Regions from separate parts of the Homo sapiens genome. Here region 1 is linked to region 2. Evidence: fine-mapped expression QTL. A gene starts in region 2. The other region holds a variant in brackets. All regions are shown on one strand. Distances are from middle to middle. Region 1 holds the start of LOC105377576 (a long non-coding RNA gene). Region 2 holds the start of DCTD (dCMP deaminase).

Region 1 (8,327 bases), 40 kb before region 2:
CTTGTCTTATTGCAGGAACTCCATCAATGACAGACAGTTGTGCTGTGATATTGGGGGTGAAGAAGAGTTGATAGAAAAGAAGTTTTGAGAATTTGTTCCTAGTCACTTAAAATGAAGCTGGGGTCAGAGCTGAAGGCCTACTCGATGTCAGCACTACCCTCCCCAGCCTGGGCCCTCGGTGCCTTTTTGGCAGGGACCTGGTCTTCCTCATGTCGTATCTTCCACAGGGCCTAGGACATATTTGCTTAGCTCAGCAAATATGTATTGAGCGCCTGCTGTGTACCAGGAACTGCGCTAGAAGCCAAGGATACATGAAGAAACAAAACAGAAGCGGCCGGACTCTGAGGCCAGTAAGTCTCATGGGGCAAAAAGGGGCCTGTATCTCGGCCGTGTGGCGACGTTATTTGCCTCAAAAAACGCCTAGGCCGGAACCCCTGCATTTCAGGCTCCTGTGGAATTTTGAGAGAAGACAGTACTTTCTTAAGCTGTTCCGTATTTTCCATGCAGGCTTCCATTGACAGAAATCCCACTTTGCATCTGTGAAATTTGCTAACGCACGATTCTGCTCTAGTGCATCGTGAGGCAGTTTATGACATCCGTGCAGCTCTGGTAAAGAGCATGCTTACAACGAGGGGGAAAAGCACCGCCGCAGGAGCAGAGCAGTGGACTCTCAGGGAATTTCCATTTTCTCCTGTCTTAGCGCTGTTAACCATCACGCTTGGCGTTGCCTGACTTCGACATGCGATCACGGCTGCTAGTTCTGAGAGAATGTGAGTTTCCTGGTGAAACTCTCTCTCAACTCTAAGATGGACCTTGACGGAATGCCAAATGTCTCTGGCCTTCCAACATGATAAAGGGCCTCCACGATGCTTTCTGCTTTTCTCCCTCTGCAAAGGTGGCAGTGAGGAGCTTTCTCTGGTGGCTGTTGCATGGACCCTGTCCCCTTGGATGGCTGTGCCTGCAGATTGTCAGGCCGTTGTCTCTGCTTCCCCAGCCCGCAGAAAGGTCACCGACAGGGCTGTGGCACATGCAACTTGGCCCTCACCGTGGAGGAGATGGGGCAGCTTCTGTACAGGTTCTGATCAGGTGGCCACGGCAATGACTGGGGATGCCAGGGACACACTGGACTGTCCCGAGCACGGCGACTTCCCTGGTTTTGCTACCTCTCTTCCACCTGCACTGCACTCCGGGGCTCTGATTTTCACCTTGCTCGCTGACCCCCGCCTCCTGTTTCATGGGTCTTCTTTTCCTGCCATCAGCATCTTTTCTCTGAGACGCCGCTTGGATTTTCTTTCCTGCCTGTTTGTCCTAGACACCGGCAGGAGTTCAAGAATGATGTGACACAGTGATGTGGCCATGGGGTCTGTGCAGACTGACCTGGCCTGTTTCAAAATTTAAATTTTGTTTTAAGTCATAAAAGGGCTACAAAAGCCTTACACTAAATAAGAAAAACTATCCCATCCGGGGGCCTAATCCCTGCCCCGTTCTGCTCGGCTTGCCTCCCTCATTATACTTGTATAATACAGTATGGTTTCTATCGCGTATTTCCTTCCTGTTTTTACACTTATTCTTGCTTCACTGACTTTATTATCGGCAGAATTTTGCAGCATTTTTTTTACACAGCCATAAATACTCTTCAATTCAACAAATGCATACAAATGGTTTCCATTAGAATTTTAATCTACTCTCAAAATGAAAGAAAAGCTTAATATAAATCTTTTTAAATTACCAGAACATAAATTCACACAGGGACAGTTCCTCCTAGGCCACGCACAAGGGGTCGCATCCTGCCGTCCTCCCTCAGAAATTAATTGAGCTCTCTTGCCGCCGTAAACGAACAGTGCATCTGGAAAGATCGTATCTGTCAAGATTGCAGATTGGTTTCCCTCAGACTTTGTAAAAGTCACAGCTTACAATACGTTCATTATACCGATGAGAATGGCTGTCCTCCCAACTGGAAAGAAATAGGTGTTTTGTTCTGTTGGACCAAGATTTACAGAAAGCAATTTTCCTCCATGCAGGAGATATGACAAACCTGCTGGAAAAAAATGTCATTTCACAACTTCTTTCATTTCATCACCTTTTTTTACTGCTAGATGTAGATTCTCTCCCCTGTGCGAACGGGCTGTAGTGACATTTAATGGCTAAGTGAGGGAGTCACCAATGAGTGGAGGCACCTTTCTGAGGGGCTAAGGTAAGAGGGTTTCCATGCCTCTCCCTCTCCCCCTATGTCCGGGGCTGTCTGGAAGCGTCCCAGCATCTGCCGGAGTGAGGGAGGGACGCGGTGAGTCCCTTGAGCCCCTCAGCCAACTTGAACTTAGGAACTCATGTGAATCTTGTGTCTCTCTCTTGTAAGCAGCTGAAGTTGCCTCAGTTTTCCTGTTGTTTGCTGAGCCCAAGAACCCCAGCGTGCCCACTCTGTCCTTGGCTGACAGCAGCACGCTGTCTCAGGAGGACGGCTGAAGGGCAGAGTTTGGGCTTAGATGTTTTTTTTCCATTTCCTCATGTCATAACCTAATGCTGTTCTAGCAGAGCTTCTGCATATTAAATTGCCTTTTAGCCACTGGGAAGGGGGTGGCGTGATCTATGGAGAAAAGGACCCTCATGTAAATGTATGATGGTGACACAACCCCACAGAGGAGAAAGGGCAAGACTAACCCGGAGACCAGGGGTCAGCAAACCCCGGGAAACGTCACTCTTTACAGCCACTTCTCTCTCCTTGAGTCAAGAGCCACTGTTCCGAGCTTTCCGTCACAGCAGCTCATGGCAGCCCTATCACCGCCTGTTCTCTGGGCTGGGGCTGGTGAGAAGGCCGAGGAAGTCTGAGGCAGGGTGTGTGGGAGGGCTTTTGGTTCCAAGAGCTTCTCTGAGCTCTGTGTACCAGCGAGAAAGCAGGCAGCGAAGGCAAGATCAAACCTTGCTCCTGCCAAGCGGGAGAGGCTGGCTTCGGGTGGTAATTTGTGCTGCAGGTGAGGCTCCCTACCTGGGCGGCCACTTAGCTGCACCAGGCAGGGAGGGCAGGGCCACCAGAAGGCCTGGTGGGCATTGTTTCCATGGGCTGGAAAGATTTTTGCAAATCTTTCTGCAAATGATGATCTCTATCCACATAAAGTGGCATAATAGCCTCTTTGCTTTACCGAGTGCTGCTGGCTGTTCAAGTGCTTATTTCTTGATTCTTGGCCCATTTGCTTTCCATTAGCAGTAATCCCAAGCCTGCAAAACTCCAATTACTAAGTGATAATAGAAATGCAGCTCTGCCTCGGAGTCTCTGGAGCTCAGGGTCCAGAGTGGGCCAGGGTTCCACGCACAGCCACATTGCAATCATATTTATGACATGTGAGCAAGACATCTGGCCGGTCCCTGGGTTAAAGACCCAGGGGAGCCGAGTGGGCATTCTCAGGGGGTGTCTGCACCGCAGATCCCAGGGAGCTGGTGGAAACAGGACAGGTGTTCCCAAGACAGTCCAGGATGCTCAGACAGCGTAGGAGGAATGGAGGCTACAATGGACGGAGCTGAAGGAATGTGTGCTGCTCCTTTGAATTCTGGGGTTGGAGGAAAGGTGTGCTAGGGACTGAGCTGTGTCCCTCTCCCAAATTCATATGTCAAAACTTTAACCCTCCATGTGAGGGTTTTTGGAGGTAGGGCCTTTATAGGTAATTAGGTTTGGATGCAGTCATGAGGGTATCGCCCTTACGATGGGATTAGTAGCTTTCTAAGAGACCAGAGCCGTTGCTCCCGGCCCCACTCCCTGCCAGGTGAGCCCACAGTGAGAAGGCGGCCGTCCACAAGCCAGGAAGAGAGCCCTCACCAGAACCCGGCCATGCCAGCACCTGATCTCAGACTTCCCAGCCTCCAGAACAGTGAGAAGTAAAGGCTTATTGTTTAAGCCGCCCAGTCCCTTGTATTTAGTTATGGGCAGCTGAGCAGACTGCAACAGGATGACAGGAGAGAGAATGATTGTAGATTCAGAGTGAGGTGGGGCTCAAAGTCAGAACTTCAGAACTGAGCCCAAAATGATCAGAAAATTCACCCCCTAGGTGGCTGCTGGTGAAAATTCACTACTCTAGGGGCCAGGGCAGCTGTTTTGTATGTGTGTGTGTGTGGTAAGAAAACAAAAAAACAAAACAAAACAAAAACAACCACACACATAATAAGGCCAGGCACGGTGGCTCACGTCTGCAATCCCAGCACTTTGAGAGGCCGAGGCGGGTGGATCACTTGAGGTCAGGATTTCCAGACCAGCCTGGCCAACATGATGAAACCCTGTCTCTACTAAAAATACAATTAGCCGGACATGTGGCGTGAGGCTGTAGTCCCAGCTACTCAGGAGGCTGAGGCAGGAGAATGGCTTGAACCTAGGAGGTGGAGGCTGCAGTGAGCTGAGATCGTGCCATTGCACTCCAGCCTGGGCGACAGAGAGAGATTCCATCTCAAAAAAACAAAACAAAACAAAACAAAAAAAACACATAACATAAAATTTACCATCTTAACCATTTCTAAGTGTACAGTTAAGCAGTGTTAACTATATGCACACTGCTTTGCAATCAACCTCCGGAACTTTTCATCTCACAAAACTGAAAGTCTGTATCTGTTAAACAACTCCCATTTTCCCCTCTCCCAGGCCCCGCACCCACCATCCTACTTTCTGTCTCTATGTATTTGACACTCACATCATCTCGCGCAGGTGGGATCATCTG[GTAT/G]TTGTCCTTTTGTGACTGTCTCCTTTCACTTAGCTCACTGTCCAAAGTTCGTCCATGCAGTAGCATGTGTTGGATGGACTTTCCTTCCTTTTCAAGGCTGAGTAAGATTCCACTGTGTGTTTACATTTTCTTTATCCATTCATCCACCGAGGAACACCTGGGCGACGTCCCCCTCCTGGCTGCTGTGAATAATGCTGCTCTGAGCATGAGTGTGGAGCGTCTGTTTACAAAGGAGATGGTCAGACAGTACAACAGCACTCAGGTCAGTCCAGCTGCCCCCTCATCCCACCAGCTCCTTCCCAAAAGATTGACCACTGGACTTTTTCTCATAGGAAGCACTGCCCTCCGCACCAAGCTCCCTTCACATCCTGATCAGCGCTGCTCTCGGCTGCTGCTTCTTGCTTCAAGCCCCCAGGAATATCTCCCTTTTTTTTAATTCCATTTCTCTCTCAACCTTAAAACTATCCACCACCCTTAGTCTGTTCCATTATCAAGCCCTTCTGCTGACTTTCACCAAGCACTGTCATTTCTTCTTCCACATTTTCTTTCAAATTCTCCAAGATCCTCTTTTAAATATACTAGCAAGGCAGACTCGCCTGACTTTTCCCTAGTTCACACCTAGGGACAAACAGATCCAAAAAAGTCAATAGAATTTGTAGGGGATCCTGATAAGGACTTGGCTGATTTTTGTTGCCTGGTTTAGACCGCTGCAGTTTTGTGCCCCTCAGAAATCTCATAATTTATGACTGCTGCCAGCGGGCAAAAATGTGGAGCGTTTGTCCTCAAACAGAGTCTGTTGTAAAAGTGTTCTTTCTAACGGTAAAGAGCAGCAAAGAAAACAGGCTGCTGTGTTCTTCCTCTCTGATGCCTCTGACCTCGTTGAGTAGCTTCTCACTCAAATTGTTCATTGTGGCACCAGCCACATTCTTTTTGAGATTTTAAAAAATTAACAGACTCCTTTTTTAGAGCAGTTTTAGTTTTATGGAAAAATTGACTGGAAAGTATACAGAGTTCCTATATTAATGCCTTGGTCTCCTCCCCACCATCGTTTCTCCTATTATTGACACCTTGATTCTGACTCTGGGGCTGCCCTCTCTCAGGAACTGCAGCTGACCTGGGTGCCCAGTGCCTGTCCCACGCTAGAGAGGATCCGAGTCCAGCGTCTAGCTCTGCACAGTCTTTCTCCACTGCAGTGGGCCTGACTGTGATCAGCCCTGCTCTGAGACAGGAAGGCCCGAGGGCTGTTGCGTGGCCCATCTGCAGGGGCATCGGTGGTGTGACAGGTGTCCCACCATGTCACGTGGGGTGGATGTCCACTGCCTGAACCCTGAAGGCCAGGCAAGGAGCCAAGGCCAGGGGGGCCCAGCGAGGAGCGTGTGTCCCTGGGAGTATCTGGGAACCTACCCAGGAAGGCAGTCCCATCACACACAGCAGGCCAGGAACCAGAGACTTTGCTTAGTGATGGCAGCAGTGCGAACCTCTAGAGCTGTCCTGCCGCCACCCAGGAGGGCCCTCAATAGAGTCATCTACTGGCCAAGCTGGACTTGTCCGAGCCAATCTTCGGTTTCTCAGCACCTTCCCAGTTTGGGGTGTGAGGTTGCAGAGTGGGGACAAAGTCCCAAGTCTTTCTTATAATAGCATCCTGCACAGAGATTACTGTAGGATGGTGCTCCCAGCGGGGAACAGCATGGCCCCTGCCACACAGATGCCAAGCAGTCCCTGGGGGTGGAATGACAGACGCCCTCTCTAGGAAGACACTGTATTACACACAAGGAGTGGAGTCAGTTTATACCATGCCCTGGTCTGCCCTGGAGATGGAAAAGGGAGTCTGACTGGACAATGGAGAGCTTTTTGGATCAAGACTTCCATAGATCCAGTGTATCCCTTTACTCAGTCAGTCACTTAATATCTACTTATCTGAAAACACTCAGGAGCCCAAGGCAGGCAGATCACGAGGTCAGGAGTTCGAGACCAGCCTGGCCAACATGGTGAAACCCCGTCTCTACTAAAAATACAAAAATTAGCTGGGTGTAGTGGCACGCACCTGTAGTCCCAGCTACTTGGGAGGCTGAGGCAGGAGAATTGCTTGAACCCGGGGGGCGGAGGTTGCAGTGAGCTGAGATCGCACCACTGCACTCCAGCCTGGGTGACAGAGTGAGACTCCATCTCAGAAAACAAACAAACTAACAAAAAAACCCAAAACCCCTGGGCCAGGCACTGTTCTAGGCACTAGAGAGTCAAGAGGAATAAAGCAGGCTTGGCCCTGCTGTTTTGGGGGGACACAAACAGAAAACAGTAAGACAAATAGACAAAAGAGTTATGTAAAGAAAGAAACTGGGTGACCTGATGGTTACTGGGAGGTGGGGGTCTTGGGGGTGCTGGTAGACAGGGTGGGCCAGGGTGGGCCCCTCTGAGGAGCGGACTCTGAGTGGAAGTGCTGGAAATAGGAAGGAGGAAACTGTGGGAAGAGCTGGCGGAGAGAATTCTCACCTGGGAAGAAGAAATAGCAAGTGCAGCTGCCGATCTGGAAAGGAACGCTCGAGAAGGAAAACAGGCCGGCAAGGCTAGGGCATCAGGAATCGGAAGGCAGGAGCAGAGAGGCTGGAAAGCCAGCTGTGGTGGAGGGCCACAGACTACGGCTCCCATTTGCCTGCCTTAGCACCCAGCTTCATGAGCTGTCCCAAGACCCCATGTCACTTGGCCCAGTGTCTTGGTATGGGCACCAGCCTCCAAGCTGGGGAACCTGAGTTCTCAGCCCCGTTCTACCTCTAGAGCTGTGCAAGCCTGCCTAAGTCCTAACTGCATGTCCTTATCTACAAAGCAATGCTGGAGATACGATTCTAAACTCTAATATTCTCCAGCAACGACTGTGCCATGCCGGCCACACAGATGACTCACAAAGAACTCCAGCACTCCCAATGCCAAGGTGCCGGGCTTGCATTGACAGAGTCCAGGATCTTCGCCTGCAAACCCTGCTGCTGCTCCTCCGAGAGTGGAAACCTGCCAACCCGCAGCCGAGGGACAGTAACAACTCACTTGGCCAGTGAGCAATGTCACAGCTGTGTCCAAGAGAGGAGAGGCAGGAGGAAAGAGGTAACAGGCAGGAAGCCCACTCCCAGACAATGAGCGTCTTCAGAGTCCTGACGTAGCAGAAGTCTAAATTGAAACATCCCGGTGCAGCGGGGTGATTGCACTAAAGCAAGTTGGCAAAACATCAGACAGCAGGTACCATGGCTGCCTGTGACGGGAGGCTCCGGCTGACTTCCTAATTGGGCCAAAGCACCTCGAGTGCCCTGAAGTTCACTTGCACTGCCATCAGCGGCTAAAACAAAGAATCCTTTCATCAATTAAAATGTGTTTCCAAGGCAGCGTTTTGCTCTTCCCTGGAGGAGCTGCTGGCCTTGCTCTTGTGATCTGTGCTGGCTTTGAGACCCGCAGCTGGGGCTGCAAACCCAGCAAGCCTGGAGCCCCCGCCCAGGCCTCAGCATGTGCTGCTTGGACTTAGCCCTGCTATGGATTTAGTGACTGTTCACTTTGCTCCTCCCTACTCACGACCCAACAGACAATGTTTAGCCAAAGGTGCTTTGGGGCAGGAGGGGCACACTCCACCTTGGTCTCTTCTGTGCG
Region 2 (8,327 bases):
GGAGCTATTCAATAAAAAACAATCGGTGAAGTTGGACAAATACCTATGCAGGTTTTTAAAAAAATTCCTTCTAGAAAGGGGCTCTGAAAGGTACTCTCCTCAATTTGGACAAAAGGCAGTGTCTCATAACCAACAAAATCAGCTACACGGGAAGTCAGGAGAGCTGGGAAGTCTGGGGTGTGGGGCAGGTGCTGCAAATGTACTGCATGGCCCTTGGCTTCCAGGTCACTGCTTAAAGATCTGCTGGGGGCTCTGGGTGACTGAAGAAGGCACAGGCCCCATTGGGAGGCCCACTCAGTGCTCACCCAGGACCCCTCCGCACTGTCCAACCACGGGTATCTTTTGCACCAGCTTGAGTATGACGGACCGCCATCCCCCCAGAATTCCTCCATATCAAAGTCCAGCCCCAGGGCCAATATTTCACTGCCCAGACTCGGTGACATACTGACTGTGGCCGTCACACAGTTCAATGCAGACCTTTAACATATCGACCCTCCACTTTCACCATTTTTATAGGGGACTTTGAACCGCACTGTGAAAAATTATCTTTGCATGGACTTAAAAACAACTAATCACTTCCCTTCTTTCTTACCATCAAAAGCTTATAGAATCAAAATCAGGGTGACAGTTTCTGAGTCCGCGCATTTTTCTAATTAGTCATCCACTACCACCGGCTCTGAAGCTGTGCTGAGAAGACAGTCTTACCCTCCCCCAACTCCATCCTCTCTTCCCACTCCGACGAGGGAGGGTGAGGTTAAATCAAGGATCTGAGGATTCGGTCCCCTTCATCCCTAAACTACTTTTCACATCCTGGAAACCCAGACTGCTTTGCAGTCCTCAGTTCCTCCTCTCTCTCCAGGTACCTCTTAACTTTTTCTTTCAAACATGGAGAAGTTGCCCCTAGGCAATTTAGAAAGAAATTTATGGGGCTTATTTAACATGATTGAGGTCCAGGAACATTAGTAAAAATATATAAATTAGACTAAATGTTGACTTGGATTCTTCATGAGAAAAACCCAGAAGAAAACCTACCAGGAGAGTCAACAAAGAAGAAAGGTCGTACATCACGCCTTGGCCTGAAGACACAATCTTTCCCATTTGGATGGCCTTACTCTCCCTTCACTTCCAACAGCGCCAGTCTGTTCATTCTCAGACATAAAATACAGGGCCTAACCTTACAAAAATCAGCAACCTGCATACCCAGCATGATTTGCCTCTTTTCCAGCATTGCTTGCATATTCTCCAAGGAATGCAAGGAAAAGTAAAGCTATGGCTGGACCCTCCCAGGCAATCTCTGAAGGAATTTTCCCTGGGGCTTAGACAGGCAACAAACTCTAAGAAGCAGCCTTCCCTAATTTCAAGGGGAAAATCCAGAGACAGTCAAGCCAAAGGTTTACAGTTCTACACTTCTAGCTTTTTCTTTTCTTTGTTTTTGTTTTGTTTTTTGTTTGTTTGTTTTTGTTTTGTTTTTTGAGACAGAGTCTTGCTCTGTCACCCAGGCTGGAGTGCAGTGGCGCAGTCTTGGCTCACTACAACCTCCACCTCCTGAGTTCAAGCGATTCTCCTTCCTCAGCCTCCCGAGTAGCTGAGATTACAGGCACCTGCCACCACGCACAGCTAATTTTTGTATTTTTAGTAGAGATGGGGTTTCACCATGTTGGCTAGGCTGGTCTCGAACTCCTGACCTCAGGTGATCTGCCCGTCTCCACCTCCCAAAGTGTTGGGATTACAGGCGTGAGCCATCGTGCCCAGCCTCACTTCTGGCTTTTGGTCTGACCACAGCCTACTGTGAAATTGCAGCATCCCCTGTAACTGGAGGAAGCAACTGGATCCTCCATCTCCTGATGTCTAGTTCACAGTTTGATTCCTGCTTGCCAGCAATGAGCTTGAGCCAGATGTTCTCATCAGGCACATGGGCTGAATGAAGCCTGCTTCTCATCAGACCAAAGCCCGAGCCAGCCCCTGGTTAGCCGACCCTGCTTCCAAGTAGTAAAAAAAGGAACCCACAGAGACACCATGCACATCCCTCAGCTATCTCTGCAAGGGGCTGTGACCCTCTGCAGAGACGCCGACTATCAGTGCACTGGTGTGGTGCAGGCCAGCAGGTTGCCAGTGAAGCCTGCCAGGCTCAGCACAGGCAGCAGAGCCCTGGATCTCAGGGCCAGCCTGTGTGGCCACTACCATGCTTCTCTCCGTGGCTCTCTTTGGAACTTAAGAGACAAGGCCAGGAAATTGGGGTAGTTCAGTAGGATACTTTTCTTTCCAGTTGTTGATGACAAAAGGGAGATGATGCCTTCTGACCAACTTTCTTAATTAGGCACTCACCAGGCTATGTCACTAAGCAGAATGGGACATAAAACTTGCCCTACCGTACGGGTATTTGGTGTCCAGCTTATTCTCTGCTGTCCTTCTCCAAGGCAACACGTCATCACTGCACCCATTTGGCATCCCATTGTACCCAATCCCGACAATCTTGTTTTCTGAATTCACGATGCAGGCGCCGACCTAGAAGGAAACATGCCCAAAGGCTTGGTGCCTGCAACTGGCTGGTCTGCCGCTGTGGAAGCAGGGAATAAAACCAGGGGGACTGCAGAACTCAAAACAGACGCATAGCTGCTGCAGGTGCTGAGAGCTGTCGGTCTCCTTGCCTGGTTTTTTGTGGCAGCACCCACAAGCCAAGGAAAGTGCACCCCCAGTCCCAGAAGGGGCACAAGAGGCAGTTAACAATGGCATGTGACAATTTTCTGTCTCACAGGAAGAACTAAGCTTGTAGAAACGCAGCACAAAAGGCAGACCGACCCTGCACTTTTAAGTTGACAGGCGTCCACTGAGTCTCCCCTTTCTGCTCATGTGCAGTAATCTCTTTGCCTGTGAGTATCTAAGCATTCTCCCGTGAAATTCATTTACCTGGGAATTTGGATCTTTGCTTCTCTGTGCTGATAAGAAGGCCACAGCCATAAAATACTCTGGCCATTCCAAATAGTCGTCCCGTTTCTTGCAGGAAACTTCACTCATGTTGGGTCTAGAAGAAAAACATGACAAAACAGAAGTTGAGAGAAGCATTTTAGTAAGTCTGTTTTCCAGTTCAACCCAACCACACTGAACCTTTAAATCTCTAAACATGGGCAACTTCAGCTACATTTATCAATCAGAAATCACAGCACATGGGCCCTAAACAGTCTCTGGTCTTAAGTAAAAACTTAAGAAATTTCCTATTTCAGAAGTTTGAATTTGAAACCTATAGCTTCACGTTCCCAAATATTTCATCTATTTACTGCTTTCTCATAGGATTTTTTATGCCAGCCTACAAATTGTTGTGTCCTTTACCTGTCTCCCTTACAAAGCGGAGTCAGCACAGGAGGAGGGTGGAAAAAAGAAATATTTATTGATCATCTATAGATTCCAGACATTGTTAAAGTTTATACACATCATGTCACTCAAGCCTTACTCCTAGCTAAGGTAGACAGTGCCATCCCATCTTACACAGACTCAGAGAACTTAGGTAACTTAACCTAAACCACACAGGATTATCATCCATGCCAGACGGATTCAAAGAAAACATCTGAAGCCTTCCCAACTCTGATATTAACCAGATAATTTTTCCCTTCCCTTTCTCCTCAATAATCCAGATGGGACAGAAGTTATCAACTCCGAGTAATGAATTACATGAGAAGAAACTATGAAAAACGTCAAGTGCTACTCCTAAAGCAAGGTTTTTGGAACGTAGTTTACCAGGGGCAAGCAGAGACTGTCTACGGCAGGGAGAGCCCACGAAGGGGGTCCTAGGACTTCAGGGGAGTGGTCGCTTTCAAAAGGAATGAAACAAGGGCAAGGAAGGAAGACAACACAAAAACGGGGTGGGTACCACGGAGAAATCTTGAGAAAGGCGAGGAATGTGGTCTAAAGGAAGGCAAGCATCTCCCAAAACTTCTGCTTCAGGCTCCACACTTTATTTAGGCATCTGCTACAGTGCAGGGCGGCAGTGCCTAAGACAAGGATGCAGTGGAGAGTGGGTGCTGGGAACCACGGTCACCCACTGATTACGCTGCCCCACATCTGAGAGGCCTGGCAACCCCCCTAACAGGAAAAGACAGGTGCTGAATCAGCCTGGTTTCCCACCTGGCTTTAGGGCCAGCATCCATCATCGCTGTGGGGTGCTGGAGAAGTACCTACTAAATAGGAGGGAGGGGGAGCCATGGGGGGCGAGGGAAGAGCAGGAGAGGGAAGGGTCCTGTTAATCCCCTGGGCGCCTTCTCCTGGTGTGGCTGAACGCCCACTAGAGCCCTGTGAGGACTGAGGCCCAGCTGTAGAAACAGAGAGAACTGGAGCTCGAATACAACGATTCAGGAAGACACATCCGGTCACCGTCCCAGGCACACCCCACGCCGCTCGCAACCCCGTCAGCTCTGATCCAGGGCCTACACCCGGCATTCCCAACCCACACACGGGCGCAGGAAGGGATGTGGTGTTCAGACGCCCAGCACCACCTCCCGGGGCACTCCAAGGGGCCCGGCCTCGCACAGGCCGCGGCGCCCGCCGAGAAATCGACCCTGGAGTGACTGCGGGGACCCCGAGCGCCCCCACCCCGCCCGCATTCTCCGATCTAAAGGCTGAGCGCGGCCGAGGCGCCCCCAGCGTCCGCGGCCCCAGGCCCCCGCCCGGCAGCCAGCGCCCCGCGCCACGCGCTCGGGACGGTGCCACGCGGCGGTGGCTAGGGGCGCGCGGGCCGCGTACCCGCACGGCTGGCCCCCGCCCACCATCCGGTGCCGGCTCCGCGCGCAGGCCGGTGCTCGTCCCCGCCGCCGCCGTGCTCAGGGAAGGAAGTCGGGGGAGGAGGCGGGGCCGCCGCGGGGCCGGAAGGGGGCAGCGGCCCGGGCGCCGCGCGTTCGCAGGACGGCGGCTGGCCCCGGGGGCCCGAAGCCCTGAGGGGAGGGAGGGAGGGACGGCGGGGGCGGGTCGCACGCCGCAAAGGCGCTGCTCCGCGTCGCCGTACGCCTCCCGGTCCCCGTGACGCAGCCCGCGGTCCGGCCGGCGGTGTTCAGAGCCCGAGCACAAACTACTTCCCGGGTGCCAGACCGCCCCGAGGTCGCCCCGCTGCCCGGGTCACGCGTGGCGCTGGGTGGCCGCGAGTTGGGCGCTCCCGGGCCTGACTGCACGACCGTCGGGGGCTGCTTGGTTTGGTGGTGGTGGCGGTGGTGAGGTTTTCCCCACCATCCGTGTTCCATCAACTGCTTAGAGACACGGCTATGGAGATTGTGATTAAAAGACGACCCCAAGAATCTAGTGCCGTGAAACTGGCGGGGCGGGAGGTGGGGAGACCTGGTTTGGGTCTCTGGAGTGAGCCCGCTGTGTCGCAGCGTCCCCGTGGGGACCCTTGGCCGGTGGCTGGGTCACAGTTTCACACACTGGATGGGGCAGGGAACTGGGTCCGGCGGGGGCGCTGTGCCTCGAGGCTCAGTGCCTCGAAGCTAGATTTGCATTTGGCTGCGCCTGACAGGCTTTCAGTTTCTGCTCAAATTGTGCGGAAGGGCCTGAGGTGTTTGCTAAAGCCTGCCGCGCCCTGCTCGACCCGTATCACCGCACAGGCACCCCACCTGCATGTTACCTCCTGGTAATGCTCGCCCACTTATATAGTGCACATTTTGTTGCAGTTGTTTCAAAGATGAGAAAAACAGGGCAATAGGAAAGACCATCAGTGACATTTCTGGAGTCGTATGCCCCAAGCAACTTAATCTGGTTTTCATGAACTTCGTTACCCTGTGCAGACGTCTAGCCCCTTACAGTGGTTCTAGCACAGAGAATGACAGAAGAACCCCTTTCTGTTTCATTCATGGGACTTGAGGGGACTGTCAGCACTCCATAAATAACAGCTACTGTAATAATCGCCAGTTCTGATCTGCACATCCCAGATTTGAACTGCTATTCCAAACAAAAGCTTGTTAACTATATTAATTTAGCCTAACGGAGGAAGAATGATGAGAGTAAACAGTTGGTTCTATCTAATTTCTCACTACAGCAGACACATCATTCTTCATCTCATGGTCCAGCTTGTAGATTCAATAATTAAATTATGTACTGCTCTTGGTGGATGCCGGGAAAGCAAAAGGGAGAAATACTTCATCGTTAACTATAGATTTTTTTTTTTTTTTTTTTGCCTTGATAAGACTCAGGCTTGAAAGAGCCACATAGATTAAGATGATGATTTTTAATTTCAAGTTGACTTTACATGGCTGTCTTGTTGCCGCTAAAATGTGTCATATATCCCGAGCCCCTGGTTTCCCTCCTCCTCCCAAATCCACCGCTTGGTCTTTGTCACACTCATCTACAGTCTTTGGGTCTTCATAGATCCATTTCTCTTCTTACCAACCTACAACCCATACATCACCAATTGCTGCTGCTCCTTCAACCACAACATCATTAAGCTTTCTTCCTTCCTCTGCTCGGTAAAGACTGTCATACATAATTTAGTTACTTCTCATCACTCTCCATTTTGGTCAACTCACACACTCCCCTCTGCCATAAATTCAAGCTCCTGCTTGCTGAAAACACATTACCCTGAATGTTCCCGCATTTCACTGAAAGTCCCTCATCTTAAAGATGACATCATTCATAATACAGGAAACCCTCCTGGTTCAGAGTTTCACAACTTGAGGTTTCAAATATTGTACACCAATAGTGAAGCCACGCGGCCAAAGGGGGGAGAAATATATTCCTTGGTATGTCTTTCTCATTAACACCTTGTAACTCCAAGTGTGACTGTAGGTGTTAAATCTCTCTTGCTAATACCTTGTATTTGGGCTTATAATTGAGGATCTTTCTCCACCTACTACAGATACAGAGGTTAGGTATGTGTTCAGCCCTATCTAGATTGGCCTTCCTTGAGGGCCTCACACAGGTTGAACCCAATCAGCACATTCCTAAGGACTACTGTCTTGGCCCTTTTGTTTATGGGGTTTCGTGCTATCTATGTCTAGTCTAGAGCATAACCTGGAATATATTAATATTTCAGTGTGCCTTAGGTAGGGGATCCCGATTAAAAACAGAAGTCAAGGTAAGACTCTTCCAGGGCTGCCTCAGAAGAGGGGTTGATGGCATTTGCAAATGTCTGCCGTACCGAGATACTACCTGCCCCTCCTTCCACCTCCTCTGCCTGCCAAGGTAAGGATGAGACCTGTGACTGGGGAAACAGAGGCAAGGAGTCAGGAAGGTGGCCAATCTGTCCATCAAGTTTGTCATGAGAGAAAGAGCACCGGCCTTGGAGTCAGACCAGACTTTGAACCCTACTCCCACTTCTTACAACCCGAGTAACCTTGAGAAGCTACTTCCATTCTTGGAGTCTCTGTAAAATCAACAATATTCATTTTTTATTAATTCCCTGCTATGTGCTAAGTGCTGTAAATACCATGATGGATACTATAAGCCAGTTCTTGCCCTCACATTCCCCTCTCCGCAAATAAACACAGAAAAAAATGAACCTTATTGCTGGCCCAGTGAACATAGTAAATGTTGTTATAAACTGCCTGTTGTTCTTAATTTGGTGGTTGTCAGTCAGGACCAAAAACTCCTTTGCATAACAACTGCACTTAGAGGCAAAGTGCCACTTTGACTGGTTTTCAAAGGAATAATTGTTTATGTTTCCATGCTAAAGTGCAAACTAGAGAAAACTCTTTTTAAATCTTAAGTAAGGGATGACTGTAAGTCTGCTAAACCACAAAAAAGTCACAATGAAAATTCTAGAAAAAAATAAATATGTGGTCTTATCAATACAGTACAGGTTGAGCATCCCTAACCTGAAAATTCAAAATCCAAAATGCTCTAAGATCTGAAACTTTTTGAGTGCTGACACTCCCACAAGTGGGAAATTCACACCTGACCTCATGTGATAGGTGCACAAAATTATGAAAAATATCCTGTCAAACTACTTCCAGGCTATGTATGTAAGGTGTATATTAAACATAAATATATATTGTGTTTAGATTTGGGTCCCATCCCCAGGACACCTCATTACATATATGCACATATTCCCAAATCTGAAAAAATCCAAAACCTGAAACACTTCTGGTCCTAAGCATTTTGGAGAAGGGATATTCAACCTGTATATACATTTTCGTATGTATGTTAGAGCATGAGGTCAGTTGTTTGTGTTCCATGAAGGGCATACAGACTGCAAATTGACATGACAGAGCACTCCTATCAGAAAAAAAATCAGGATCCCTAAACAGCGTTTTTGTTATGAGTTGAAGCCACCAATTACTTTGTCATTATACATCTTCAAAATTACAATGAAGGGCCGGGTTTGTTGTAATGAACTCACTCCTGTAATCCCA

What was found.
Region 1: its variant is fine-mapped to the expression of DCTD in whole blood (TOPMed, PIP above 0.99).

The regions. Positions count from the first base shown.
Region 1 is chr4:182,872,841-182,881,167 of GRCh38, forward strand. It overlaps LOC105377576 (a long non-coding RNA gene), which reads right to left and starts at 6,697. Exons shown (of 3, transcript XR_007058403.1): 1 at 5,815-6,697; 2 at 4,671-4,920; 3 at 1-2,038. The variant GTAT/G (reference allele first, on the strand shown) is at 4,698.
Region 2 is chr4:182,912,554-182,920,880 of GRCh38, forward strand. DCTD (dCMP deaminase) reads right to left here and starts at 4,833. Exons shown (of 6, transcript NM_001921.3): 1 at 4,758-4,833; 2 at 2,908-3,022; 3 at 2,370-2,505. The coding sequence starts at 3,015. RefSeq lists a silencer at 4,465-5,174 and an enhancer at 6,748-6,797.